Linked DNA regions of Homo sapiens. The protein of the gene in region 1 interacts with the protein of each later gene in a pairwise test. Each region holds a gene or a part of one and is shown on either strand. Other genes may lie near its edges. The genes, in order: E2F5 and RBL2.

Region 1 (4,486 bases):
TTTAAGTTTTGTTTATAGATTTGATTAAAATAAAGGTTATTATGAATAGGTTATTAATAAAGGTTATAAAGTTCTGTGCCTATGATGTGTTATAAATGGTGTGTTCAGCTTTACTAGTTAATGCTGTTGTATTTGATGTCGCTTCAGTGACCTTTTTTGTTAGTTTATTGTTACTTAAAATTAAGCAAAATCTTTCTTGCATGAAATCTTCTTGATTAATTATTGCCATATAGAATTTTCATTCACCTAATCTTTTTTTTTTTTATTTGAGACAGAGTCTTGCTTTGTTGCCCAGGCTGAAGTGCAGTGGTGGCATCTCGGCTCACTGCAACACTGCAACGTCTGCCTCCTGGGTTTAAGAGATTCTCCTGCCTCAGGCTCTGGAGTAGCTGGGACTATAGGCGGGCACCACCACCCCCCGCTAATTTTTGTATTTTTAGTAGAGACGGGGTTTTACCATGTTGGCCAGGTTGGTCTCGAACTCCTGATCTCAAATGATCTGCCTGCCTCGGCCTCCCAAAGTGCTGGGATTACAGGCGTAAGCCACCGCGCCTGGTCTCATTCGCCTAATCTTTATTGTCTACTATATTCAAAGTGTTGAGTGTGACAACAAGTCATTTAAAATTTAGTCTGGATTCTCAAGAGTTTGTAATATAATGAGGAAAAAATCCCAACGACTTTCTTTTACTCAGATCTCCATAATGTCATTTGCCATCAATAGTTTGGAATATCACTGAAGTCCAAGGGCCTGTGGCTACCCAATATTCCAAATACAATATAATTTGGTTCAAATAAGATATTAAGAACTTTGGTCAAGAACTTTGGTCAAACACAGGAGATCTGGAATCTAACGGCATGTCTTTGGCAATTCACAACCTCTCCCTCTACACGTTTCTCCATGTAGAAAGTAAAGGCCTTGGAAAGGATTGATGAAAACCAACCCTAAAACTCCACGATGCCTTTTTCTGTACTCCGAATCTAAAAGGGTGAGCTATGAAGTAAAACTCTGCACTTGGTCCAAGTCATTGAAATATTTGCAAACGATGCTAGAGCTCGAAAAGAGCAAAGATAGCAGAAACCGTCCAGAGAAAGTAACCTACTGCTGAAGCTCTGCAAACTTGAGCAGTCAACCAACTTCACCGCTCACAAACGTTTGGCCGCTAGGCATTGTGACTTTCTGCCCAGATAAAAGTCTTTTTTTCTTTTGTCTCCTTTTTTTCTTCCTCCCTGCTTTGCCGCGTGAGATTACCACTCCTCGGGTCAGCTCGCGAACGCCAGGGAGGCGAGTGTGAAACACACGCGCCAACACCCCTCCTCCTCCTCGTGCGCTCCTCCTTCCTACAGAAAAATGTGTTTCTAGGCAACGGCGGGCGGCGGCGTCACTTCCTGCCATTTAAACTCAGGTCCCCACCCCTCGCAGCCCCTTCTCCTCGTTTCCACCCCTCCCCCCTCGGTCGTGGGCCTCATTCACGCTTCCCCGGGCTTGGGGAGGGGGCGGAGGCCCGGCGTGACAAGCGGCCCAGACTCCCGTGGGCGCCGCACACCTGTTGTTTGCAGCAGCCAGCGACCCGCACTACCGCTCTCGGCGGGCGGGGAAGCGGCCGCAGCGGAGCCGACCCGGCAGGTGGCCGCGGGCGGGGCCGGCGAGCGAAAGTGCGCGGGGGCCCGACCACCGCGGGGCCGGGACGCGATGGCGGCGGCAGAGCCCGCGAGCTCGGGCCAGCAGGCGCCGGCAGGGCAGGGGCAGGGCCAGCGGCCGCCGCCGCAGCCTCCGCAGGCGCAAGCCCCGCAGCCGCCCCCGCCGCCGCAGCTCGGGGGCGCCGGGGGCGGCAGCAGCAGGCACGAGAAGAGCCTGGGGCTGCTCACTACCAAGTTCGTGTCGCTGCTGCAGGAGGCCAAGGACGGCGTTCTGGATCTCAAAGCGGTGAGCTCCGGAGGCGGGGACGGGGGCGGACTTCGGAACCCGTGGCCCCCGGGGAAGCCCAGCCCCTCGCCGCGTGGGTCTAGCGGCGTGGTGTAGACGCGCCTTGCGGGGACCCGGGACCGGGCAATCCGAGGACCATGTGGCCTGCGCCCGGGTCGTGGACGCCGGGATGGGGGAGGGACGAGGGACCAGGATGGCACCGAGCGGACGCGTAACCAATGGGGCCCGGCGCCACGCTGGGCTCTCGACAAAGAGCCCAGGACCTCGAGCGCGCCCGCGTGGCTTCTGTCTCCGGGCGCAGGGACCTGAGGGTAACCGAGTGTCTGTTGCTCTGCGTCCACCTGTGGCAGAGGCTCACGGGGTAACGGGCGCTTTGCCCGGAGACACCGTGGATATCGATTTTGCTGTTAAGAATGGATGGTTTTAATAGGCGATTCCAGTTGGAACCATGTTCCTGTAGTTTAAATAAAAAGGAGGAAAAACAAAACCCAGTCTGCCATCTCTACCAGATGAAAGAAAAAAAAAAAAGAGTACTTCTTTCCACGCCCCTCCCCGATAAAATAGTATTAAATCTTCCTTGTGCACTTCTTTCATCACCCTGATAGTTAGGAGGGGTATTTGATTTGTGACTTCATTTGGCATGTGTCATGGGTTTCCAAAAGTGAGATCTGCTGTCACACGAAAAGGGGATATTTTACAACTTTCACCCAAAGAGGTGGAAGTGCTCAGTAAACTCTCTCCCTGCGTCGTCCTTTACAGCGTTCAGATTTTTCAAACAGGAGCAGGCATCAAAAGCTGTTCTGTCATACAGAATGACTTAACCGATCTAGGAAGGATTTGGAAGAATTCAACAGCGCTCAGGATAATGAGAATGTGGTCACTCCGCGCGAAGTTTAAGAACTAAAGTTTTAGAAACAAACAAACAAAAAACACTAACTGCCCAATAATCACTGCAAATCCCCTTTGACTCCCTAAATGTGGCCTTACTTGGAGGATTGGCCCCAGCTCCCAGGGGAGTGCCTGGACCACCTTACCTGGCTTGAGAGTGTCACTGCATCCTCAAGGCTCTGCATAAAGCAGTGGCAGCTCCCTGAATGTAAGGACCAAGACTTGCAGGGGCCAACTCTTCTGCTAGAGGCCCTCCTCCAGTGTAGCCCAAGGGGAAGTAGATCTTTTCAGTGCCCTCTCCTTTCCCTGGATGTAGTTGGTGTTCAATCAGTGATTGTTGAACTGAATTACCTAAATTGTTCAACTTCATACAACTGAGGCATGCTGCACATATTTTGCATTTTGGTAAGTAATTTCTACTATTTTCTTTTTGATATGTTATTCCTGGAATTTTTTTCCCACCTCTGGAAATTCCTTGTTCTCTTTTTTCCACCACAGCCCCTTCTTCCTTTCTCTCCCTGAAAGTGATTTATGGCATGTGTAGTATTTAAATTGTAGTGAATTAAAATGGATTCTGTTTAAAGAATTTCACAGGAAGTCATGAAGTTATCAGAGAAAGCCAGGAATGTTACAAAGCACAGGTGGCAAACTGCTGTTCAAAATCTAGAAATTCAGCTGTAGCCTGTGACTTTGGTGTAAGAAAATCAGGGAAGTTTGGGGTTTTCCAGGTAAAACTGAACTCTGACGGCTGGACTTTGAGGGCTTCTCCCTCAGCTTGCCTCAGGATATGGTGGAACTTTGCCCTTTCTTGACTTGAAATTCTTTAGCTTCCTCCTGTTTCATCTGTGGCTATATAATTGCCCTACAGAAGTCACAGAGGCAGTGAGTAGGATGTAAAGTTTGGTATTTCATGACAATAATTGCTTTATTCATTCTGGAACTCTCCTAAAAATTCAAAGGTTTCTACAATAACACTGTCTCATTATATTAATGACTTCATACTCCTAGAAAAGAGTTTGAATGTCTTTAGTTTTCATATATATGTATGAAAAACATATGTTTTATGTATTTTACGTATATTTTTCATTTATTTATATATACTTATATATGTAAAAATCTTTTTTTTTTCTTTTTTGAGACGGAGTCTTGCTCTGTCGCCCAGGCTGGAGTGCAGTGGCGCGATCTGGGCTCACTGCAAGCTCCGCCTCCCGGGTTCACGCCATTCTCCTGTGTCAGCCTCCCGAGTAGCTCGGACTACAGGCGCCCGCCAGCGCACCCAGCTAATTTTTTTGTAATTTTAGTAGAGACAGGGTTTCACTGTGTTAGCTAGGATGGTCTCGATCTCCTGACCTTGTGATCCACGCGCCTCGGCCTCCCAAAGTGCTGGGATTACAGGCGTGAGCCACCGCGCCCGGCCAAAAATCTTACATTGAAATCTTTCCAATGATATTTCTTATTATACACCATAGTAAAAGATCGTTAAAGCCTTTTTTTTTTGAGACTGAGTCTTGCTCTGTCACCCAGGCTGGAGTGCAGTGGCAGATCTCTGCTCACTGCAACCTCCACCTCCCGGGTTCAAGCGATTCTCCTGCCTCAGCCTCCCAAGTAGCTGGGATTACAGGTGCCCGCCACCATGCCCGACTCATTTTTGTATGTTTAGTAGAGAAGGGGTTT
Region 2 (3,158 bases), on another chromosome or scaffold:
AAAAAATGAAAAACACTTGTGAAGGTACATCTGTTGATAATAAAGAACACTGATTTTCATTAAAACCCCCAAAACATTTATTACTTTAAAGAATAAAAATAACAAGTGTCATGATAAAATATGTCTGGGATTTGTTTTAAAATAATCTGGGGAATGGAAGTGAATCAGAGTATAAATCAAACAAGGCTGGCCAAACATGCTGAAGTAGAGGAATAGGTATGTGAGGATGCATTATGCTTCTCTACTTTTGTATGTTTACAATTTCCTATAATAGATATCTGTGAATTTGCTTAGTATGCTTTCTGTAAGCAAACATGGATGAAGCAGCACATGAAAAAGAATTTTAACCAACAAACTAGCAGAAAATAATGTGACAGACGACTTTTAGAGGCTTTGGAGAAACTGAATGCTAAAGGTGCTGTACAGCCAGCCCCAGTCTTTCTGACATTCTGGCAGTGTCTTTCTCAATTGCAGCTCCTCATCTGAGCCACTGTCCAGAAAATAATTTGAGTAACTTTAATCCTCAATTCTCCCAAGGATAGTACCATTCTAGATCTTACTAATTTATTAGCTACAATGGATACCTTAGGGGGGGATTAAGGCCTACTTTTCTAGTGAAATCCCAGTTGAGAATGGCTGCTAAAAACTGAGTAACATTAGACTGAAAAAAAGGGAATATTGTATAAAGTTGTACTTTAAAAAAGAGAAAAAGATGTGTCTAAGTGACTATCAGATAGCAATGTAATGCTCCCTAATTGTAAAAAAAATCACAAATTTGTGAACTCACAAATTATAGACATGTATAATTGACCTACAGGTCAAAAGTGCCTGTGGAAGAGCTTGTTAAAAATAGAACTACTCAGCCCCTTCTCAAATAGCCATCGGCCTCAGCCAGCTGAAAAGTAAAGTTGGCAGGTTATGTAACTTAGTGTTTCTTTTCTCTGTAGATGTGTTCAAACTCTTCCAGGGTAAACTGCTTAACTCATTTGAGATTCTTTGACTTAATACTGAGCTATGTGCATTTGCATTTTAAAATTTTTGTATCTTTTTCCCACCATAGAGACTGAGAGAAATTAATAGTATGATACGCACAGGAGAAACTCCTACTAAAAAGAGAGGAATTCTTTTGGAAGATGGAAGTGAATCACCTGCAAAAAGAATTTGCCCAGAAAATCATTCTGCCTTATTACGCCGTCTCCAAGATGTAGCTAATGACCGTGGTTCCCACTGAGGTTAGTCTCTTGTATTAAACTCTTCACAAAATCTGTTTAGCAGCAGCCTTTAATGCATCTAGATTATGGAGCTTTTTTCCTTAATCCAGCTGATGAGTTACAGCCTGTTAGTAACATGAGGGGACATTTTGGTGAGAAATGGGACTTAACTCCTTCCAGTGTCCTTAGAACATTTTAATTCATCCCAACTGTCTTTTTTTCCCTACCATTCAGTGATTACTGTCAAGGCTGCTTAGAATCCAAACTTGGATTTTTGACTCTGGCAAAGCTTTTAGAAATACTGCAAGAAAATGATGTGTACCCAAACGTGAGCATAGGAGGCTTCTGTTGACGTACTCCAACAGAAGAACTGTGTTTCAAGTTCAATCCTACCTGTTTTGTGGTCAGCTGTAGTCCTCATAAAAAGCAAAACAAAAATTAGGTATTTTGTCCTAAAACACCTGGTAGGAGTGTGTGATTTTTTGCATTCCTGACAAAGGAGAGCACACCCAGGTTTGGAGGTCCTAGGTCATTAGCCCTCGTCTCCCGTTCCCTTTGTGCACATCTTCCCTCTCCCCATTCGGTGTGGTGCAGTGTGAAAAGTCCTTGATTGTTCGGGTGTGCAATGTCTGAGTGAACCTGTATAAGTGGAGGCACTTTAGGGCTGTAAAATGCATGATTTTGTAACCCAGATTTTGCTGTATATTTGTGATAGCACTTTCTACAATGTGAACTTTATTAAATACAAAACTTCCAGGCTAAACATCCAATATTTTCTTTAATGCTTTTATATTTTTTTAAAATGTTAAAACCCCTATAGCCACCTTTTGGGAATGTTTTAAATTCTCCAGTTTTTTGTTATATAGGGATCAACCAGCTAAGAAAAGATTTTAATCAAGTTGAATTGAGGGGATTAATATGAAAACTTATGACCTCTTCCTTTAGGAGGGAGTTATCTAAAAGAAATGTCTATTAAGGTGATATATTTAAAAATATTTTTGGGTGTTCCTGGCAGTTTAAAAAAATTGGTTGGAGAATTTAGGTTTTTATTAGTACCATAGTACCATTTATACAAATTAGAAAATGTTATTTAACAGCTGAATTATCTATACATATCTTTATTAATCACTATTGTTCCAGCAGTTTTCAAGTCAAATTAATAATCTTATTAGGGAGAAAATTCAATTGTAAATTGAATCAGTATAAACAAAGTTACTAGGTAACTTCATATTGCTGAGAGAAATATGGAACTTACATTGTTCAATTAGAATAGTGTTCTGCAAAAATATTTATAAAACTTCTCAAGATACTGCTACTGTAATTTTATATGAAGATAAGTGTATTTTTCAATAAAGCATTTATAAATTAGCCTTTGTTTGGTTATATTGAGAAAAGGGTAGTTTCCTGCATAAATGGCAAAGAACAATCATTTATTGGTTTATTTTGTCTCTACTAAACACATTAGTCATTTATCATTTAAATACCGGACTTCATTAGAAACCGTTGTAACACTTTTTCTCCCTCCTGCCATAAAAATACAGTAAGTAATTTGCTTAAAAAAAACAACACAACACTAGGAACAAGTGTTCTGGTTTCTTCTCACTGAACTAAAGACATTTCTCAGTGATTTCAGTTTGTAAATCAGTAAGACAGTGCAGGCTACAAATCAGTGCAGGCTGAAGACTGAGATTCAAATGATCTTCCACTTAAAAGTGCTGAGCTATGGAACCTGCTCTCTCTATACCTCTCCATTTCCTAACATATATACAACTGAAACCACTGATTTATAAACTATTAAGTAGTGCTGAATTCTGTCTGCTCTATTAGTTTAAATGAATGCAACTTACCTTTAGCATTATATTCAGAAAAATACTTACTTAAGCCTCAAGGTCCCCAATAATTTGGAGTACTGAACTAGATAACCACCCTAAGACACTTCTGACAGAA

The links.
Region 2: the proteins of E2F5 (region 1) and RBL2 interact in a two-hybrid assay, tested with the Homo sapiens proteins (one study listed by BioGRID).

What each region holds. Positions count from the first base shown.
Region 1 is NC_000008.11:85,175,731-85,180,216, forward strand, and holds the start of E2F5 (transcription factor E2F5), read left to right. Parts: upstream 1-1,423; 5' UTR 1,424-1,690; coding exon 1,691-1,924; intron 1,925-4,486.
Region 2 is NC_000016.10:53,489,070-53,492,227, forward strand, and holds the end of RBL2 (retinoblastoma-like protein 2), read left to right. Parts: intron 1-1,060; coding exon 1,061-1,231; 3' UTR 1,232-2,579; downstream 2,580-3,158. UniProt on the Homo sapiens protein: Key regulator of entry into cell division. Directly involved in heterochromatin formation by maintaining overall chromatin structure and, in particular, that of constitutive heterochromatin by stabilizing histone methylation.